2 linked regions of the Homo sapiens genome follow. The protein of the gene in region 2 interacts with the protein of the main gene of each other region in a biochemical or structural test. Each region holds a gene or a part of one and is shown on either strand. Other genes may lie near its edges.

Region 1 (3,500 bases), on a different chromosome or scaffold from region 2:
GCATGGAAATATTAGGTTGTGCCAATACTGCACTGCTGTATGGTATTAACAGAAATGGAAGCGGAGTGTTTATTTCTGACATCGTGAAAGGCGGAGCCGCAGACCTGGATGGGAGATTGATTCAGGGAGATCAGATCTTATCTGTGAATGGGGAGGACATGAGAAATGCCTCACAGGAGACAGTGGCCACCATCCTCAAGGTGAGTTGCTAGGCTGCTTTTTACCCAGCTGGCACAACTGAAGTCCAGTGGGAACTGTTCCAGTCTAGCTTGATTATAAAATGGGTTGGATTTTATACTAACTCTAGTTTTTACTAGAAATTTAATCTCTGATTATTTTAAATGAGCCAGAATAGCTTTAAAAGAAAGTTCTGTTATATTGACTAACAGAATGAAAGGGAACCTGCTTTGGGATTTCACAAGCAAGTTTTTCATACTTGTGAGAATTCTAAGTATCCATCACTGTTCTTTAAATGCATTTGATGAGATGGGCCCTCCAGGAGCCACAGAATTCATCCTCCTCTCTCTAGGGCTATGCCTGTTGCTTTCATTACCCTTTTATAATTTGTGGCTGCAGGGAGAGGCTCTGTTAAGATATTTCAGAATATAAATGCTACTACTTTTCATTTCTGTTCTTTTCTTGCCTTTCCAAGTGTGCACAGGGACTTGTGCAGCTAGAGATTGGAAGACTCCGAGCTGGTTCCTGGACCTCCGCAAGGACGACATCACAGAACAGTCAGGTTGTCGATGGCTTCTCATCAGACTGACTCACTCTTCTGCCCCCACTGGGAGAAAGTTCCCCATTTAATAAATGGTTGTTTGGAAATAATATCTAATGTACAGCATATTCACAGCACCAAGTTTAGTGAACTTTCATGTGTTTGAAATAAAAATGAAAGGTGGGATGGAAATTCATTAATCCCTAGATTTTTCTCTCCTTTATTGCTTGCAAATGTTTTCTTGGAAGCTCTTTTCTCTCTATTAGTTCTATATTGCCTATGCACGCATGTACACAGCTGTGTTTATTTAAAAAAAAAAAAAGGCAACATCTGGTGGCAATTTGACCCTCATTAGCACAACATTGTTCTATTCATTCAATTAAATATTGCTATAAAGTTAACTTGTGACTAGCCACTCACACATGCCGAGGGCAATTAATGGCATATTCCTAGGAGAACCAAGTGTGGGGGTTTTTCCTGTGGGAGGGAGGGCTTAGTGGGTGATATTTTGTGGGTTAGCAAACATCTTATATTTATTTGCAAAGCTGATGTAAGTGCCATTTTTTTTTAGCAAAGTATATTTCACTATATTTTTTTCATTGTAATGGCTGACAAAATCAAGATGGTAGACTGTATGGTTAGCCCCATGTGGTACATAATGAGACTATAGAAACTTATATGTGACCCCTAAGTCTCCTCTCTGGGTTATGGATAGGCCGCCTTAGTTTTGAGGTTAAAAGCATGACTTTTGGTCCCCTCCCTGGTTGCCTTATTTCTGAAGCCTCTCCAAGGCCTTTGTTCAGAAGGTGCTCTGATCTTACAGTTAGCACACAGTTACTTCTGGAAAGCTATTAGCTGCCTCCTGTTCCTCACTGGTGTTAAAAAATGAGTGAGGAAAATACCATTGTTCAGATAGGATTACAGACTAGCTGGCTTGTCTTAGGGAATCTTCAAAGCAGTCAAACCCAATAAACACCATATTAAGTTTGAAACACTTTTTTTTTTTTTCATTTCTGGCTTACATAATGGGCAGCAAATATCTAAGACATGGTGCTGCTGTAGGATTCCATGAGTTAATAGTTAGTGATGATATTGACCAGACTTATATCAACAAACGAAACAGTTGTCTAGCCAGGCTTCTTCCTTAATGGAAGACTCATCTTTGTTGAATGATTTCATTAAAGCCTTATTGTATACAGAAGATTAGAATGAAGCTACACAGAGGAGGTTCCATTGAATCTCACTCCAAATGGAGTTTGGGGAAAAGAAGGAAAAGGCATCTCAGACAGGGAAAATAGCATACACAAAGGCACAAAGAGGTAACAGGTGTTTGTGTGATTTAAGAAAAGTTTGGACTGATCGATAGGTAAGGTAGTGGATAGAAATGGATTTCTGTCCCTCTTGAGAGATGTATGTGAGCATCTTCTTATTTATTTATTTATTTATTTTTGAGACGGAGTCCCACTCTGTTGCCCAGGTTGGAGTGCAATGGCGCGATCTCAGCTCACTGTAATCTTCGCCTCCCGGGTTCAAGTGAGTCTCCTGCCTCAGCCTCTCGAGTAGCTGGGACTACAGGTGCCCGCCACCACATCCGGCTAATTTTTGTATTTTTAGTAGACACGGGGTTTCAAAACATCTTGGTCAGGCTGGTCTCAAACTCCTGATCTCAGGTGATCCACCCACCTCGGCCTCCCAAAGTGCCTGGATGACAGGTGTGAGCCCCCGCGCCCAGCCGCATCTTCATAATTTTTAAGTTCACACTCAAAGACAGAACTACCAAATTTAGAAGCTACATCATTAAATATCAAAAAAAAAAAAAACCTATCGTCTCCACTTACCTGGTATATGAATGTGAGTTGTCATATTTTGGAAACCTGGGACAAAGTATCAAATACTTTGCCCTAATCTTCTTACACAGAATTTTAATTTCAGAGGGTAGGAGTTTAATTCAATTTTTAAAAACAGTAAATATATCTTATCATCACCTTGTGCTTAAAATTATGGGTGAGATAGAAGAGTTTGCCCTATTTGGCTAATTAGAAGAAGGCTGGTAGCCGACTGTGAAAAGGAAATGTCTTCCCATCATGATGAGTTGAAGACTGACCCTGGTGGGCAAAAACAAGATTCCATTGCCAAACATTTTTACATCCAGACCCATTTAAAAAATCAGGATCTTGTAGGAACACAGATTTCCTTCTGAGCAGTTACAAAATAGGGAGATCAATGCCTTCTTTTGAGCGCTAAGGAGAATAAGCTCTTGACTTAATTCATAGAAAGTGAGTTCATTAAGAGAGAAATAACTTCTAGCTTTGGGGCCACCAAGTGTCTTTTTTTAAAATGACTTTCCCCCAAACCAGGAAGAAATTTCCTTACTCCACAGAGGAAAAAATACTTGCGAGATCTTTTCCTCAGCCAACTAAGGGAACACAGTCAGGCAAAGTGTACTTTTATAAACGTCTTGGGGCCGGGCGTGGTGGCTCACATCTGTAATCCCAGCACTGGGAGTTCGAGGCGGGCAGATCACTTGAGGGCAGGAATTCAAGACCAGCCTGGCCAAAGAGCCTGGTGAAACCCTGTCTCTACTAAAAATACAAAAATTAGCTGGGCATAGTGGTGGGCTCCTGTAACCCCAGCTACTCAGGAGGCTGAGGCAACAGAATCACTTGAACCTGGGAGGCGGAGGTTGCAGTGAGCTGAAATTGCACCACTGCACTACAGCCTGGGTGACAGAGGGAGACTCCTCAAAAATTACAATACAATGCAATAAAGGTCTTGGCAAACA
Region 2 (3,500 bases):
AGTAATCCTCCAGCCTCAGCCTCCCAAGTAGCTGAGACTACAGGTGCATAACAACACAAATGGCTTTTTATTTATTTTTTTTTAGAGAGAGCGATATAGGGGACTCACTATGCTGCCCAGGCTGGTCTCAATCTCCCTGACCTCAAGGGATCCTCTCACTTCAACCTCCCAAAGTGGTGGGATTAGAGGCATAAGCCCCTGTGCCTAATCTATCCATGATTCTTATAGAAACTAAACATACTGGTTTTGGAGTTAACCCCATCTGGATTCAAATCTTAGTCCAGACACTTTCTAGCTGTATGGCCTTGTTAAATCATTTAACTTCCATTTGGTCATCTATAAAAATCATATTAATGAAGATGAAGTAAAATTACTTATGTGAAAAGGGCTAACATATCAGGTATATAATCAATGTCAATTTCCTTTATTTACCAAATGACTTCTAATCCTACCTTCAGTCTACTTTTTTGTGTGTTATTGCTTCTCCACCATCTCATGTGATACTACTTTAAATGGTTGGAGAAACTGTGTATATGCTGAAAACTATTGAAAAATAAACTCTCAGGAAAGATACTCCTATGTATATTGTAGGATCATTAGGAATTGCCTCCACCTTTAACAAAGAGATACTTTGTGATAACGCATTACTAAAATTTCAGCAGCCAATGAGGAGAGGGGGAGAAATGGCCAGGAGATTGCCAGGAAGGTGATGCTTATGGTCTCTGTAACTTGACTGGTTGAGGCTCCCAGTTGATGCTGGCATGTTTATGGACCAGTGCTTGCTTGCCCCCAGGGCTGGGTGGTGGAGAAGGAGTGGGAGACGTAGTCACACACATACATGCACATCACCTAATACTTCCAGAGTGACTGTATCCTCTTCCAGGTTTTGGCCTTGCTCAGATGGGGCACTAACTTCACAACGATATTTCCCCGCATCACTTCTTGTCACATTTTTGATCCGGATATTGAAATCTATCATCTCAGCTCGATTTTTAAAATCACCTTTTAGAAAAAGAAGACATTGATGTTAGTAATAATCCAAGTAGCTTTCTGTGTAATACCTTCCTCTAATCAGTTCATTTAGTAACCAAAGCATTTATTTCCCTTTTAATAAACTCAAGTTTAAAGCCTAAAAGTTGTATATAGATGCTGTTATTTAAAATTTTTCTTTTGGAAAGGACAGTTTTTAAAATGTTCAAAAGGCCAGGCATGATGGCTCACGCCTGTAATCCCAGCACTTTGGGAGGCCGAGGCCGGTAGATCACTAAGTCAGGAGTTCAAGACCAGCCTGGCCAACATGGTGAAACCCTGTCTCTACTAAAAATACAAAAAATTAGCTGGGTGTGGTGGCGGGCGCCTGTAATCCCAGCTACTGGGGAGTCTGAGGCAGGAGAATTGCTTGAACCCAGGAGGCGGAGGCTGCAGTGAGCCGAGATTGTGTCACTGCACTCCAACCTGGGCGACAGAGAGAAACTCAGTCTCAAAAAAAAAAAAAAATTCAAAAAAGCATAGTTTTATATTCTCATATTTTATTTCATTTTGATATCTAATTTTAGTTTACTGGCTAACTTTTTTGGCAGTGTTGTAATGCCTATGTTCAACCTTATACTTCTCACTGAATCAAAATTTTGAAATCTTTATGTGTAAGGTTAATAACTGTCAGTTAAGCAGTTCACTGAGCAATTAATGTTTTTGTCCATATGCAGTCAGATCTAATTGCTGCTGTAAGATAGTCATAATTTCTCCAGTTTCAGTCTAACATATACCTTATAGTAACAAGATGCAGGTGTGTACATATTTTCTAATTAGTTGGATGGCCCTTAACAAGCCATTTTAGGTCTTTGCCTTCACTCACATAAAACAGGGATAATAATATCTTTTTTAAAAAATTTACTTTCTAGGTAAGCAGACATAAGGCCATGTGAAAACATTTTGCTAAAAGTTGCTAAACAAACGTAAGGCAAAATTTGTAAGGTATTGTCATATTAATTATTTTCTAATATTTAACTGACCTTTTTCTAATGTAACAAATATAAAAATTGCGTATTTTCAGAACTATAAAATTCAGTAGTTATACAAGGTGAATTAAAACAGTAAAGTTGGTCATAATAATAAGTTCATTCATGTATGTTTTTATTTAATTATATTAAGAAATAATTATAAAATAGGTAAAATTTAGTGAAAGCATTGCTATTTATTCTGCTTAGGTGGTCTTGCCCATATCAGTGGATTGTCTGGCACTGGCCACTCCATCAGGTACTCAGACAGTCATATGGCCCATAGATTTTGTCAAACAGATTTGGCAATACAACTCTGACCTGTCTGTCAGTCCATATGCCAGATCAAGCATGTCAATCTCCTTGTCAGTGATTGTGTCTAACTTCTCAAATATGTGCTTTTCAAAAATGAGGTGACAGAGCAAGCCAAGGTTCCCTGCCATGCAACAAACCCATCAATATCTACATTATTTTCAACCACAACATCTAGCAAAGAGTCATCAACTTTTCCTTTGTTTGTTAATGTTTCACTGTTGGTTTATAAAGTGGACTGTTATTTTATCTTCCGAGCTGCTCTGGGCCTTCACTGACGTGTTTGATCTCTGGCTGACCCCAGTGCTCCCACCCCATCTCCGAGTGCCCAGCTCCCTGGCAGGCTGTCAGCTCTAGCATGGGCCCTGTGAGGAGCAGCTGCCAGCAGGCCTGGCCACTGAGGCCCTTCCACATTATGTATGTAAATTTTTTTTTTTTTTTTGAGACAGTCTTGCTCTGTTGCCCAGGCTGGAGTGCAGTGGCGTGATCTTGGCTTACTGCAAGCCATTCTCATGCCTCAGCCTCCCAAGCATCTGGGATTACAGATATGCACCACCACACTGGCTAATTTTCGTATTTTTAGTAGAGACGGGATTTCACCATGTTGGCCAGGCTGGTCTCGAACTCCTGGCCTCAAGTGATCCGCATGCCTTGGCTTCCCAAAGTGCTGGGATTACAGACATGAGCCACTGTGCCCAGCCCCATGTTATATTTTAAAGAATTGAGCTCAAATGCTTGCCTCATTCCCTTTCTAGTTCCCTTGTAAAAATATTCATGTCTTCAGAAAACCAGGGAGTCTGGTTTAATTGACTGGAACAGTAACTTTATGTGTGGTGGCTCACGTAACACTGCGGCACAAGAAAAGATGGTTAAAAACATTATTTTATTTTTTGATAGTAACATATTCAGAATTAAAATAGTGTTTTGCACCCGGTGTGGTGGCTTGCACCTGTAGTCCCAGCCAATTGGAAGGCTGAGTGGGAAGATTGCTTGAGGACAGAAGATTGAGGCCAGCCTTGGAACATGGCCAGATCTCATCTCTTTAAAAAAATGTAAAAATTAGGCAGGTACAATGGCTCAAATAAATAGTGTTGCATAAAATAATAGTTTTGCATTTCTGCATATGCCAGAAATGGCAACTACAAAAAATTCAAGTGAAGACAGCTGTGCTATTAACACCTTACAGCTAGT

Evidence for each region. The genes of interacting proteins can lie anywhere in the genome.
Region 1: the proteins of JAM2 (region 2) and PATJ interact in a test that uses a peptide from one of them, tested with the Homo sapiens proteins (one large-scale study listed by IntAct).

Annotation. Positions count from the first base shown.
Region 1 is NC_000001.11:62,116,480-62,119,979, forward strand, and holds part of PATJ (inaD-like protein), read left to right. Parts: intron 1-52; coding exon 53-200; intron 201-652; coding exon 653-739; intron 740-3,500.
Region 2 is NC_000021.9:25,691,258-25,694,757, reverse strand, and holds part of JAM2 (junctional adhesion molecule B isoform 1 precursor), read right to left. Parts: intron 2,580-3,500; exon of another isoform or gene 1,618-2,579; intron 1,003-1,617; coding exon 850-1,002; intron 1-849. UniProt on the Homo sapiens protein: Junctional adhesion protein that mediates heterotypic cell-cell interactions with its cognate receptor JAM3 to regulate different cellular processes. Plays a role in homing and mobilization of hematopoietic stem and progenitor cells within the bone marrow.